4 separate regions of the Homo sapiens genome follow, and regions 2, 3 and 4 are each reported to be linked to region 1. Evidence: microRNA targets listed by miRTarBase, many of them from high-throughput screens and not tested one by one. Region 1 holds a microRNA gene; each other region holds the end of a gene's coding sequence.

Region 1 (3,080 bases):
GAAAGAAAAGTAGATGCCAGTGGGCTGATATCTTATAACCTTTGGTCAAGCGGTACTTGGCAAATTTCAACAGATTTAGTTAACCAGAGATAAAACTAAGCCACAGAATACCATGAAAACAAAACAAAAGTATCAAAACAGAATCAGGAATTACAAGTGAAAAACAATGCTATACCTAACAGCATGGATCTACCAGAGGCGATTTGTTAGAAGACCTGAGTCGTTGTTTCGTAGTGGATGCTTCAAACAAAAACTGTAACGTTTCTTTAGGTCAAACTATAGCACAGCATTCAGAGACCCAGCCAAAATAGCTGAGGGAAACTAGGAAGGCCACATGTGGAACTAATTACTCATGTAGAGGCCATGACAAAGAACATTTCTCCAGACTTTTCATGGGGGCTTCACTTTCAGGAAGTTGCTATAATTACTGTTCAAGTCTAGAGCAGCCTGCAAGCTGCTGACAGATTCAACAGACAGGAGAAGGAGGGAGAGAGAGAAGGAGAGAAAGAGAGAGAGAGCGGGAGGGAAGGAGGGAGGGAGGGAGAGAGAGGGAGGGAGAGGGGAAGAGGGGGAGAGAGAGAGAGAGAGAGAGACAGACAGACAGACAGACAGACAGAAACTTATCTGCCCTTTTTGACGAGTGAAATACCAGAAAATAAAGTGCCACAGGAAAGCTCAAAAAGGTTTCCAAATGAGCTCTGCCTTCCAGTGTTCAACTTTCTGTTTACTATTTCATCTACCCTCTATCTTCAAATTACTTCTCTAGCCTGGGTCAGACAGTAAATTTGTACTTCTACACTAACTCACTTTCAGTTGGCCACAGCCGAACTGTACATCTTGACTCTTTTTTTTTTACAGCTTTTCCATACTGGGGCCCACTTCCTGCCCAGTTGAGGAAAAAAATCTGGCCTGAAGATGAAATGACTGCTTAACGTTACACTAAAACATCTGGTACCATTTTATGCACAGACCCATGTCTGAGAGCAGGCGATTCTAGCGGTCTCTCCAGCGGCACAGCGCATACCCAAACCTCCCCAGGGTGACATCATCCCATATATGGACTCTCCAGCCCAGCCCTCCCCCTTTTCCTGGTCCTAAATTCATTGCCAGTTCCCCAGTCTGCAGCAAATGTGCCACGTCAAGACTGGAAATCACAGCCCTTGAGTGTGTCTCAGTCAGCGCAGCAGAATTCAGGGGGGAAAGCTGAATGCAACCCCTGGTGCAGGAAGGGAGGCTTTTCCTGAGGACCGGGAGAGGATTTTAAGTACATAGAAGGAAGCTTCTGGAGATCCTGCTCCGTCGCCCCAGTGTTCAGACTACCTGTTCAGGACAATGCCGTTGTACAGTAGTCTGCACATTGGTTAGACTGGGCAAGGGAGAGCAACGCCATGGACCGCTGGGGACAAAATGGGCTGTTTCCAAGGAGAAGACATTTGTTTGCTCCTTTTTTGAATCTCATATCCAGTGTTTTTCTTCACAGGTTTTGCACACTAGGGACCAAGAAGCCCTCGGGGACACTGCTGAGAAAAGACTGCCGAAGGGAAGACCAGCGGGTAAGGCCTTCTTGACTGCTCACCTGGTCTGTGACCAAGGGAACCTAGGTGGGGAGCCCATGATTTGTGTTAACATGCAAGGGAAACAGAGGTACATGTGTGATGGGTAGAGATGTATTTAATTTTAAAAGAGCAAAAGTGTGTGGTATATAGCGATTTACTGTTTTTTTTTTTTTTATTTCTGAAGATTGATAATTCAAGTGTTTTCTTAAAGGTTTTCCCACTTCAAAATGAAATATGAAAAAACTCATTCCAGACACTTAAGAATAGTTTAATGAGGCTACTTTTGAATTGTTTAATAATAATTCAAAGATTTAAAAACTTATATGGATGAAGGCTGTATGTATAACTTTTAACATCCCAGGACTGAAGTCATTTTTCCCCAAAGTAAAGAATACTTGCTGGTTTTTAAATGCTATATGGATAGTGCTTTTCTGAAGATTTCCTTCTGTAATATAAACAACAGGAATAATAGTACCTAACAATAAAAGAAGAACCTGCCAAGTCTTGCCTACCAGACAATGCAGATGGGATTTGCCCAGAGAAGAGCACCGACCCACAACTTATTGAGTCAGCAACTGAGTAAATCAGGGAATAAAAACCTCTATCTTTAGATACCCCTGTAAATATCTGTTTTACATTTTTTTTAAATCAAAGAGTGGTTAATAATTGCTGCTCAGCTGAGCCCTCTTGCCTATAGCTTACAATGCTTCCACTTCTCTGAGCATTTAAAATAAGGCACTTTGTCTAGAAACCCACTGATAAAAAAGGAATTTGTAAACGAAGGCAGAAGTTTTCTTTGGTCAGTTTCCAGCTGTCCTGGAGGTGAAAGAGGGTGGGAGAGGGGGAGGAAGGTGGGAGGGAAGAAAACCCTCAAGCTGAATGAAATCCTAATAGAGAAAATAATAGAGCAAGTCTGGATTGCAATGTGATCTGTGCTGAACTTTAGAGGTCGGCCCCTTAAAGAAAGTTCTGGAAAAATGTTATTGCCTCATCCCTAATTTTCTTAACCCCCATTAATTTCTATTCCGAAACAATTCTATATAATGAAAACATCTCTTCTACAGGGTTTGTGAAAAATAAACATAATCTCTTTTGTCCTCCTTTAAAGTTACAGTGGTTCCTGAACAAATTCTTTTCTAAGTTATACATTTTGCAACAATTCAAAAATTGACTCAAGTTCTCTTTAGCAAAATATTTTATTATAAAAGATTCCCTAAGTTTTCTTTTGTCAAAACAACTTACTTTAAAAATTACCCTTCTGATCACCCCAAAATGTGTATAAAGAAAACATTAAGTATTCTCATATATTCATGATTATTAGTTAAAATATAAACAGCAAGGAGAAATTTAGCTACTTTCACTTAGATGATATAGTAAAGTTATCCTTTCATTTTCTATTGTGACTTGGAGAGTTCCATATTAATTATTTTTAGTAGAACAAATGAGATGTTAAAAATCTATATAGTTTCTTTTACATAAGAAAACTAAAAAAAGTAACTTAGAGGAGCTCATTTTTTCAAGAAA
Region 2 (3,080 bases), not on the chromosome of region 1:
GGGGCACCAGACCCCGCCAGGTCGGGGGCCCCCTCGCCAGGGCCGCGTGGCCTCCGCCCCGGACTTACAGAGAGCACCCACCCCGGTCTTCAAAAGGCCAGAGTCGTCCCGCCGCCTGGACCCCTCAGCCACCTCCCGGGCCTCCTTCCAGCGGCCGCCACCTTCTCCACCAGCTCCCTAGTTCTGGTTGCCACCCAAGCTCCGTCCCCATGGCAACCGCCACCGCCGGAAGCGACAGGCCCTAAAGCGACAGGGCAGGGCGGTGGTCACGTGCCAGGAAACGGTGACGAGCGTGCCCGACGTGCCTCCTGCCGGTCGCTGGCGGCATAGACTTTCCTCGCTTTTCTGTCCTTCCTCCGCTCGCACGATCCCACCTTTTCACATGGTCCCGTCCCCTAAGAAGCTGCAGCGGCCAATACTGCCAATTTTTACTTTCCGCAACCTTGGCAAGATGGGGTGGAGAAGTATGAACTCGGATACAATGCTCTTTTCCAAAAGCAAACTGAATTTCCAGGTCTCATGGATGCAGCACACAACCGTCCTGCCTGCCTCCTCACCGGGCACCGCGTGTTGCAGACAATTCCAGCTGGCTGGGGGCAGATATGACACAGGGTGCACCAGCTTGCGGTTCTCAGCACAAAGCGTTTCCGCAAAACCGGTCTGGCTATATCTATTAGGATCATTCCACGTCAAAGTGGCTCTCCACTAACATCTCATGGAAGACGGCAACAGGTGGCCACACGGGTTTCCACTGGGACCCCTGCAGGAAACCAGCCAGAGCCACTGAGGCAGAAGGCTCTCTGCTGCTGTCATTTTAGGAGAATGTGAATAATTCTCCCCGCCCACACTGCCATGCCCCAGTGATGGTAAATTGATTAATATGCATACATCTTAAAATAAAAAAGAAAGGATAAACTGGGCAAGCTGTGTTTATTATAGTCTGAGACTTTATAAAAGAGACTGGAAAATACGTGGAATTAGAACATGCAATTTAAACAGCAAACATTGGTAAACACAGCATGTCTGTGGCTACCAGAGGGGAATACGTATGGCTGTCAGGTCAAATAGAGTTTGAGGGAATTCGCCCAATAGGAAGGCTTTGGAATTGAGTGTGAGAACCTGTGGCTGGAAGCACACAGCAATACCAATCCCATCAAGGCAAGCTGGTATCTGTATCCAACCACAGCAAAACCAGTCCCAAGGAACACAGGGCTTGCCTGGCAGAACTGCCAAAACAGAAAGCGGTGTGCAAGAACTGGGGAAATGAACACTGATACCATGGAGAGGAAAAAATAATTCAAAGTATTGGCAGGAATCCCTGAGAACCATTTTACCATCTTAAAAGAGACAAAAAATAAAAGGGAGGAAGAATAAGCATTTTCAAGAGGTCTGATCTACTCGTTCCTATCCATACCTCAGCGGTTTACAAAATAGCGCTGATCTCAGGGCATAGCCAGGAGGTTCAATTATAAAAAGTCAAACTAGCAGTGGGCTGGGCGCAGTGGCTCACGCCTGTGATCCCAGCACTTTAGGAGGCCAAGGCAGGAGGACTGCTTGAGCCCAGGAGTTCGAGACCAACCTGGTCAACACAGGGAGACCCTGTCTCTACAAAAAATAAATTAGCTATGCATGGTGGTGCACGCCTGTGGTCCCAGATACTTGGGCGGCTGAGGCAGTGCCCACAGCGTCAAGGCTTCAGTGAACCTTGATCACGACACTGCACTCCAGCCTGGGTGACAAAGCAAGACCTTGTCTCCAGAAAACAAAAACAAAAACACACAAAAACGGAGGGGTTCTTACTAGCGAAGTGAAAGGAGCTTGCTGCCCTCTGGTGGGTTCCTAAAGAGGAAGCTGACAGGACACCACGCTGGGCCACCTGGGAAGCCTCCAGGCTTTCCCTGTTCTCCAAAGGGAGCTACTATGGCCCTGACAGCCCAGCTGCTGAGGAAGCACAGTACTTAACCATTTCCGTATCCACAGCAGCAAGGCCTCAGTGCAAAGAAATATGTTGGTCAAAGCCTGACTTTGCAATTGCTAGCCTGTTTTGCCCAACTTTCTATGAAGCTCTTCTGACCCCATCTGAGCTTTGGTTTGGGAGGGTCATAAGAAATTCAGCTGGGGTGACAACAGGGTCATATCAGCACTGTAAAACTCTTTATTAAAAATAATAATAATAATCACACCAGTACCTGCCAGAATAACTTCCGCCCACTTGCCCACAATCCAGGGAATTCCTATTTAGGGCCGTGGCCTAATTTGTGAAAGAGGCCAAGCCTAAGTTTTTAAGAATGCCTTAATCCAGGGAGATTACACTGGTGGGCCACAGTACTGCCACCACACAGAAGTTCAGGTTACAAGCCTCTTCCAGATCCTTATGCTTCAGGGAGAGAAGACAAGTTGGAAATCCCTAGACCCAAGTCCAGGGCAAGGGAAGATGCTTTCCTGTTACTGTTCCCCAGGGACAATCATCTTTGCAGAGGAATAATGTTGCAGCTGGAAGAAAGAAGAAAAGGAATGGCGTAAGTTTGGAGGCTCCCTTCAGGAAGGTCAGAGGCTGAGCCCTTCTGACCTTTTCACCAATGTTCTTTCATTCTTTTAAAGCAAATGCCTAGTGCATGAATGAACTGGAGAGACTCCCAGGAGAGACTCTGGGGCTCCCTCTGCTTCTAGAGCTGTAGTCTCGTTCCTACCACGAGGATTTATCTGCAGTTTCCATGCAAACTGGGGATTCCCATTATTCCCCAATGTCTCCCCAGCCTTCCCCTCCAGCTTCATGTTTAACAAACACTCAAATGATGCCCCAGTGAGAATGAACAGAAACAGATACTTTACCCCAGCAGTCCTTTTCCTGCCCAGCGTGTTGGAACAAGTCTAAGCTGGTGTTTTTCCCCCCTGCGGATCACTGTCACATTCAGGGGCTTCTGAAAAGAAAATAAGCTCATTTCGTGTTCAGCCTCGTTAGTACTCAGAGATGCAGGCTAAAATGCTGAGATCCCATTTTTTGCCTATCAAATTGGTAAAGATTTACATTTGCAGCATAATCCTGTGGTTGGCGAGAGGGTGGGGAACGTGGCACTGCA
Region 3 (3,080 bases), not on the chromosome of region 1:
ATGAGTGTAAGCAATGTGGGAAAGCCTTCACATCTGCCTCACACCTTCAAATGCATGAAAGGACTCACACTGGAAAGCAACTGTATGAATCTAAACAATGTGAAAAAACCTTTGGATCTGTCAGAAACCTTCAAATTCATGAAAAGACACACCCTGGAGAGAAACCCTATAAGGAATATGGAAAAGCATTCAACAATTTCTCTTCCTTTCAAATACATGCAACAATGCACAGAGGACAGAATGCCTATGAATGTAAAGAGTGTGACAAAGCATTCATATCTGCCAAGATCCTTCGAGTACATGCAAGAACACACCCTGGAGAGAAACCCTATGAATGTAAGGAATGCGGAAAAGCGTTCAATTATTTTTCTTCTTTGCGTATACACAAAAGGATGCACACTGGAGAGAAACCATATTAATGTAAGGATTGTGGGAAAGCATTCAGTTTGCCTGGTTCCTTTCGTAGACATAAAAGGGCTCACACTGGAGTGAAACCGTATGAATGCAAGGAATGTGGCAAAGCCTTCACTTCTTCTGGTTCCTTTCAGTGTCATAAAAGGATTCACACTGGAGAGAAACCCTATGAGTGTAAGCAGTGTGGTAAAGCCTTCATTTCTTCCACTGCCATTCGTAGACATGAAAGGACTCACACTGGAGAGAAACCCTATGAGTGTAAGCAATGTGGAAAAGCCTTTATTTCTTTCAGTTCCATTCAGTACCATGAAAGGACTCACACTGGAGAGAAACAGTATGAGTGTAAGCAGTGTGGTAAAGCCTTCATGTCTTCTACTGCATTTCAGTATCATGAAAAGACCCACACCAGAGAGAAACACTATGAATGTAAGCAGTGTGGGAAAGCCTTCATTTCTTCCGGTAGCCTTCGATATCATGAAAGGACTCACACTGGAGAGAAACCCTATGAATGTAAGCAGTGTGGTAAAGCCTTCAGATCTGCCACTCAACTTCAGATGCATAGAAAGATTCACACTGGCGAGAAACCCTATGAATGTAAGCAATGTGGGAAAGCCTACAGATCTGTCTCACAACTTCTGGTGCATGAAAGGACTCACACTGTAGAGCAACCCTATGAATATAAGCAATATGGGAAAGCCTTCAGATTTGCTAAGAACCTTCAAATACAGACAATGAATGTAAACAATTAAATGTTTATAGCAGCTGCATACTAACATGTTATTCTGTATTTTTTTTTTCTTTTTGAGACAGAGTCTCGCTCTGTCACCCAGGCTGGAGTGCAGTGGCGTGATCTCAGCTCACTGCAAGCTCCACCTCCTGGGTTCACGCCATTCTCCTGCCTCAGTCTCCTGAGTAGCTGGGACTACAGGTGCCTGCCACCACACCCGGCTGATTTTTTGTATTTTTTAGTAGAGACGGAGTTTCATCGTGTTAGCCAGGATGGTCTCAATCTCCTGACCTCGTGATCTGCCCGCCTCAGTCTCCCAAAGTGCTGGGATTACAGGTATGAGCCACCGTGCCCGGCCGTTATTCTCTATTTTTTGTTGTTGTTTGAGATGAGTCTTGTTCTGTTGCCCAGGCTGGAGTGCAGTGGCATGATCTCGCCTCCGGGTTCAAGCAATTCTCCTGCCTCAGGCTCCTGAGGAAAAAGATTCCTAGGATTACAGGTGTGCACCACCACACTTGGCTAATTTTTATATTTTTAGTAGAGATGAGGTCTCACCCTATTGGCCACACTGGTCTTGAACTCCTGACCTGAAGTGATCCACCTGCCTTAGCCTCCCAAAGTGCTGGGATGACAGGCATGAGCCACTGCACCCAGCTGTTATTCTCTATTTAATTAATTGAGAAGCCATAATAAAATATCTCAGTGCCATCATGCATTAGATCAAGTTTATGTTACCACATTATTTTTTGGACATTGTGAGTCAATATTACCAAGTGGACAAAATCCCAGGCATCTTTTTCCTCATGTAAATTTTAATTTTCATGCTTATATACTTAGAACATTTATCTTGGTCCTAATTTTTTGTTCATTCATAATACCAAAAGTTATCTCATGTTCTTCAGAGTGACTTTGTGCCATATCCCACAGTGGCATACCTGTCTTCAAAGAGGGTATAATTCACAAAAGGACTTACACTAGAGGAAAACCCTATGAATGTAAGCTGCGTGGGAAAGCATTTTCTGATCTGAGTGGCATTGAAACCCACATGGTATTGCACATGACAGATAGGCCTCTCTCCCCGTTCATTTCTTTTTTTTTGAGACGGAGTCTTGCTCTGTCGCTGAGGCTGAGAACAGTGGTTCCATCTCTGTTCACTGCCACCTCCACCTCCTGGGTTCAAGTGATTCTCCTGCCCCAGCCTCCCAAGTAGCTGGGATTACAGGTGACCGCCACCACGCCCAGCTAATTTTTGTATTTTTAGTAGAGACGGGGCTTCACTATGTTGGCCAGGTTCGTCTCGAACTCCTGACCTCAGGTGATCCACCTGCCTCAGCCTCCCAAAGTGCTGTGCATACAGGCATGAGCCACTGCACCCGGCCTTCTCCCCATTCATTTTCAAAGACATAAAAGGATGCACAATAAAGAGAGACCCTCTGAATGCAAGCAATATGGAAAAGCATTCCATTGTATCAGATCCTTTTGTAGCCATGAAAGAACTCGCTGAAGAGAAACCCTGTAAATGAAGGGAATGTGAAAAGCCTTCATTCCTGAAATGAAGCAATTCATACTATTAATATATGAGAGAAATCCTATTATAAGAAATTGATTGCTGTGCACGGTAGCTTACCTGTAATTCCAGCACTTCCAGAGGCTAAGGCAGGTGGATCACTTGAGGTCAGGAGTTCAATACCAGCCTGGGCAACATAGTGAAACCCTGTCTCTACCAAAAATACAAAAATTAGCCAGGCATGGTGGCGCGTGCCTGTAGTCCCAGCTACTCAGGAGGCTGAGGCAGGAGAATCACTTGAACCCAGGAGCTGGATGTTGCAGTGACCCGAGATTACGCCACTGTACCCCAGCAGAGTGAGACTCCATCTGAAAAAAAAAGCAAGGGGCCGGCACGGTGGTTCACGCCTGTAATCCCAGCACTTTGGGAGAC
Region 4 (3,080 bases), not on the chromosome of region 1:
CCAGGATCTGCCCCTTTCCACCCAGGATCTGCCTGCCTCCTGCTGTCATTAACCTGCCATCCACGGTGCCCAGGCTGTTCATGATGAGGGGTGCCTGAAGGCCCATGCCGAGCCATCCTTAGCACCCACCCCCTCAGCCTCTCTTCCATGCTTGTCGGTGCCCAAAGTCCAGAGGGGGGCCAAGAAGGCATGGGGCTGGTGTGTAAGTGCTGCCCCAGGTGTGAGCACACCTGGCCGGGTTGTGACAGCACCTGGTCTCAGCCACAGCTTTGCTCCGAAATCAGAGTGGGCACCAGGAGTGGGGAGAGGCCAGGCAGTGGGAGCAGGCAGTTCTGAGCCTGTGAGGGCATGGGGGTTTCAAGGGCCCCCAAGAGTGCAGAGATGCCTGGGTCCACAGCCATGGCAGGGTGGCTGCAGCTGTGCCAGGGAGGGTGGGGCTCCCACCCCTCCAACTTGGAAGGGGGCGGGGCTCCTGCCTGTTTCTGGCTCCCACTGGCTCCATGGAGCATGCAGCCCTCACTGCGCCTCCCCCACTGCAGCTGGCATCATGGCAGTGGCTGCTCCAGATGGGCTGCCACTGCCATCATTAGAGCAGTCCAAATGGTCTAAGACAGTACTGAATAAATGCATGCTGAAATAAACTAGACTGTCATAACACAAACTTAGGCTCTAGGATTTCAATGCTTCCTGTAGTTCTATCTCCAGAATGGACCCTACTAGAGAAAAACAACACTGGGCTGTATAAATGATAAACTAAGTGAGCCAGAGAAGGGGGAATAAATGAATGAATTATACAGCCCAGTGTTATTTTTAAGGACCTGCATAGCAGCATGGTGGGAAGATCCTAATCTACAGTCTGCTGGGCTGGGAGTACTGCAGATGAGCTGAGAGAAGCTCCACTCTTCCAAGATTGTTACTTTCATCACTCCATCACCTGGGATTTATCTGAATCTGGATCAATTTGGTGTCAAGATTGAATCCACCTCGTCCTTAAGACCTAACAGGTTTTCAAATATGCACCCTAGTAGACAAGAGGCTCCTTGCAGATAACACAGGAAATGATGTGAGGTTCAAGGAGGGGGGCTTGAGAGGGGTGGTCGGGGGAGAGGGCTCTGGGATCTGCACCCAAACTTCATCCGCTGGGCTCCTGGGAAGGACTGTGTAATAAAGGGGCTCCAGTGCTTTTAACAACAGATTTGACAGCAAGTGGTCTAGAAGATGAGTTCTTAAATGTTTGTTTTGAAATAGATGTTTGGCATTGTGTGTAGGTCCCAACCAAAAATAATCGGCCATCTGAAGTCACCAGTCTAAAAGAAGCATTAGAAAATGTTCATCTGATGTTTCTATTGATTGTTCTCTTCCCAAGGCCAAAACTAGCTCAGCAAGATGTCTTTTACTCTTGTTCTCTGCCTCTCTGGCAAAATGCAAACACAGTTTCATCCTTGGAGAACTGTCTTTCATGCGGGAACACTTATTTAAATAAACTGCCTTAGGAACATAAAAGCAAAGGAGAAGTGTAGTATATGAATTGACCCATGTGCCTCCCTGCCCAGCAAACATGAGCTCTTTAGCCATGCAGAGAAGGTGTTGCTGGGGGGACAGGCCCTCATTCTTCAGCATTCCCCCTCAACCTTCCAGCAAAGATACAGCAGCTAAGAGACTCAGAGCTGGTCCTGGATGGGAGACTGTCGCCTGAGGGGAAGGAGACCAAGCACTCATTGGGGACATAATGGCTTTGGAGTGATGGTCACTAAGAGTGCCAGGATGGGAGCAGAGGGAGGGACAGTTGGCTGAAGAGTGAGAGGGATGGCCATGCCTTACCTCTAAGGACCAGTTCACAGCAAAAGCAAGGGATCCCTCCTGCCCATGTGTAATGTCAGCCCTCCTGAAAACTTGTAGTCACTGGGCAGGGCAGTGTGTATGTGTGTGCATTCGTGTGTGTGTGTATGTGTGTATGTATGTGTGTTGCTGAGCAGCTCTGGGGGCACCCAGCCAGCCCCAACCCTTCTGCAGTTTCAGCCTTTCTGGCCCATCTACATGTCTTCCCTCAGAGGGGCCAGCTAGAGCATGGGGCAGGCTGGACAGGGGCTCAGGGCTGTGGCACAGCCTGGGGGAGCAGGTGTGATGCACCTTTTCCTCACAGAGCAACTGACTGCCTGGCCAAGGGCAAAGAGTGCATTCTCAAGAAAGATTGATCAAGACTGGAAAATAAAATGTAGCTTGAGGACACATTTGCAGGCTGATAAATGAAGGCACAATTATGAGGGAGGCTTTGAAACCAGGAAGGGAATTGCCTGCTCATCAGATAGTTCTTCCAGGCCAGCCCCTTCCACAGACTAGCAGGAAATCTCTGGAAAAAATGACTTAATTGTGTGATTGATGTGACAGGACTCAGGGGAGCAGTGGGGGTGGGGGCAGAGCCCCAGGACCAGCCTTCCTCTCAGGACCTAAGTCCAGATGAACTAATCCTTATTAAATGTGCTCAGTTTTGTCCTCCACAGGGGTCTGGAAGCCTTTCAGAGCTGGTTCTACTCTAACCATTTGTATCCAGATATGGATCCACCGCAGCCTTGGAAAACCCTCCATCAAGGAGGAGCCACTGACCCAGTCTCTTCCAGCAAGCACCCTCCCTAGTCTCAGAATGTGTCTCTCAGCCAGCCAGCCTCTCTTCCTATCGTACGACCCTGTCTCAGCCCTCATGTGCGTCCCAGCCCCTAAGGTCAAAGACATAGCATCCACCACAAACCATTATTCCAGAGGACTGTTTATATTGCAGCTGTTTTATCTACTCCCTCACTCCAGTGCCCCTGGCCTTCATCCTGCCCATCGAAGGCATCAGTCCACTGCGGGCTTTGGTGTCCTCAGAGGAAGAAATCCTTTAATGTCTGAGGAACCTAGGGAGGAGGCAGGTGGGAGGTGCACAGACATTGGTCTGTCCCTTTCATTCTTCGGTTCTTCTAAGCAGCGACATTCTCCTGAGCCTCTGGGTGCCCAGACCCACTGGGATGGACACAGGGAATGGGGGATGAGGGCCCTGCTCTCAAGTAGTACAGCCTGCTCAGGGAGGAAGGAGCTACATG

What was found. Region 1 holds the annotated microRNA hsa-miR-199a-5p (CCCAGUGUUCAGACUACCUGUUC, at 1,304-1,326, shown strand). A microRNA usually pairs through its seed, bases 2 to 8, with sites in the 3' UTR of a target mRNA and lowers its output. Matches are read on the target gene's strand: a 7mer-m8 pairs with bases 2 to 8, a 7mer-A1 pairs with bases 2 to 7 and ends in A, and an 8mer does both.
Region 2: miRTarBase lists PSMD9 as a target of hsa-miR-199a-5p. The part of its 3' UTR that is shown has no 7-base or 8-base seed match.
Region 3: the mRNA of ZNF844 is a reported target of hsa-miR-199a-5p. Seed matches in the 3' UTR shown: 8mer at 565-572, 8mer at 649-656, 8mer at 733-740, 8mer at 901-908, 7mer-m8 at 985-991 and 7mer-m8 at 1,707-1,713.
Region 4: the mRNA of TBC1D21 is a reported target of hsa-miR-199a-5p. Seed matches in the 3' UTR shown: 7mer-A1 at 2,798-2,804.

The regions. Positions count from the first base shown.
Region 1 is chr1:172,142,838-172,145,917 of GRCh38, reverse strand. It overlaps MIR199A2 (microRNA 199a-2), which reads left to right and starts at 1,274; the gene lies at 1,274-1,383. The region is part of intron 14 of DNM3 (dynamin 3); the gene reads right to left. DNM3OS (DNM3 opposite strand/antisense RNA) reads left to right here and starts at 1,083. Exons shown (of 4, transcript NR_103486.1): 1 at 1,083-1,264; 2 at 1,481-1,553.
Region 2 is chr12:121,915,697-121,918,776 of GRCh38, reverse strand. PSMD9 (proteasome 26S subunit, non-ATPase 9) reads right to left here. Exons shown (of 6, transcript NM_002813.7): 5 at 2,833-2,921; 6 at 480-2,493. The coding sequence ends at 2,466. It overlaps CFAP251 (cilia and flagella associated protein 251), which reads right to left and starts at 185. Exons shown (of 22, transcript NM_144668.6): 1 at 82-185. RefSeq lists a silencer at 1-56.
Region 3 is chr19:12,076,630-12,079,709 of GRCh38, forward strand. ZNF844 (zinc finger protein 844) reads left to right here. Exons shown (of 4, transcript NM_001136501.3): 4 at 1-3,080. The coding sequence ends at 492. Among named protein-coding and RNA genes, the nearest start is that of ZNF844, 13 kb to the left of the region's middle.
Region 4 is chr15:73,888,883-73,891,962 of GRCh38, reverse strand. TBC1D21 (TBC1 domain family member 21) reads right to left here. Exons shown (of 11, transcript NM_153356.3): 11 at 2,749-2,894. The coding sequence ends at 2,862. Among named protein-coding and RNA genes, the nearest start is that of TBC1D21, 17 kb to the right of the region's middle.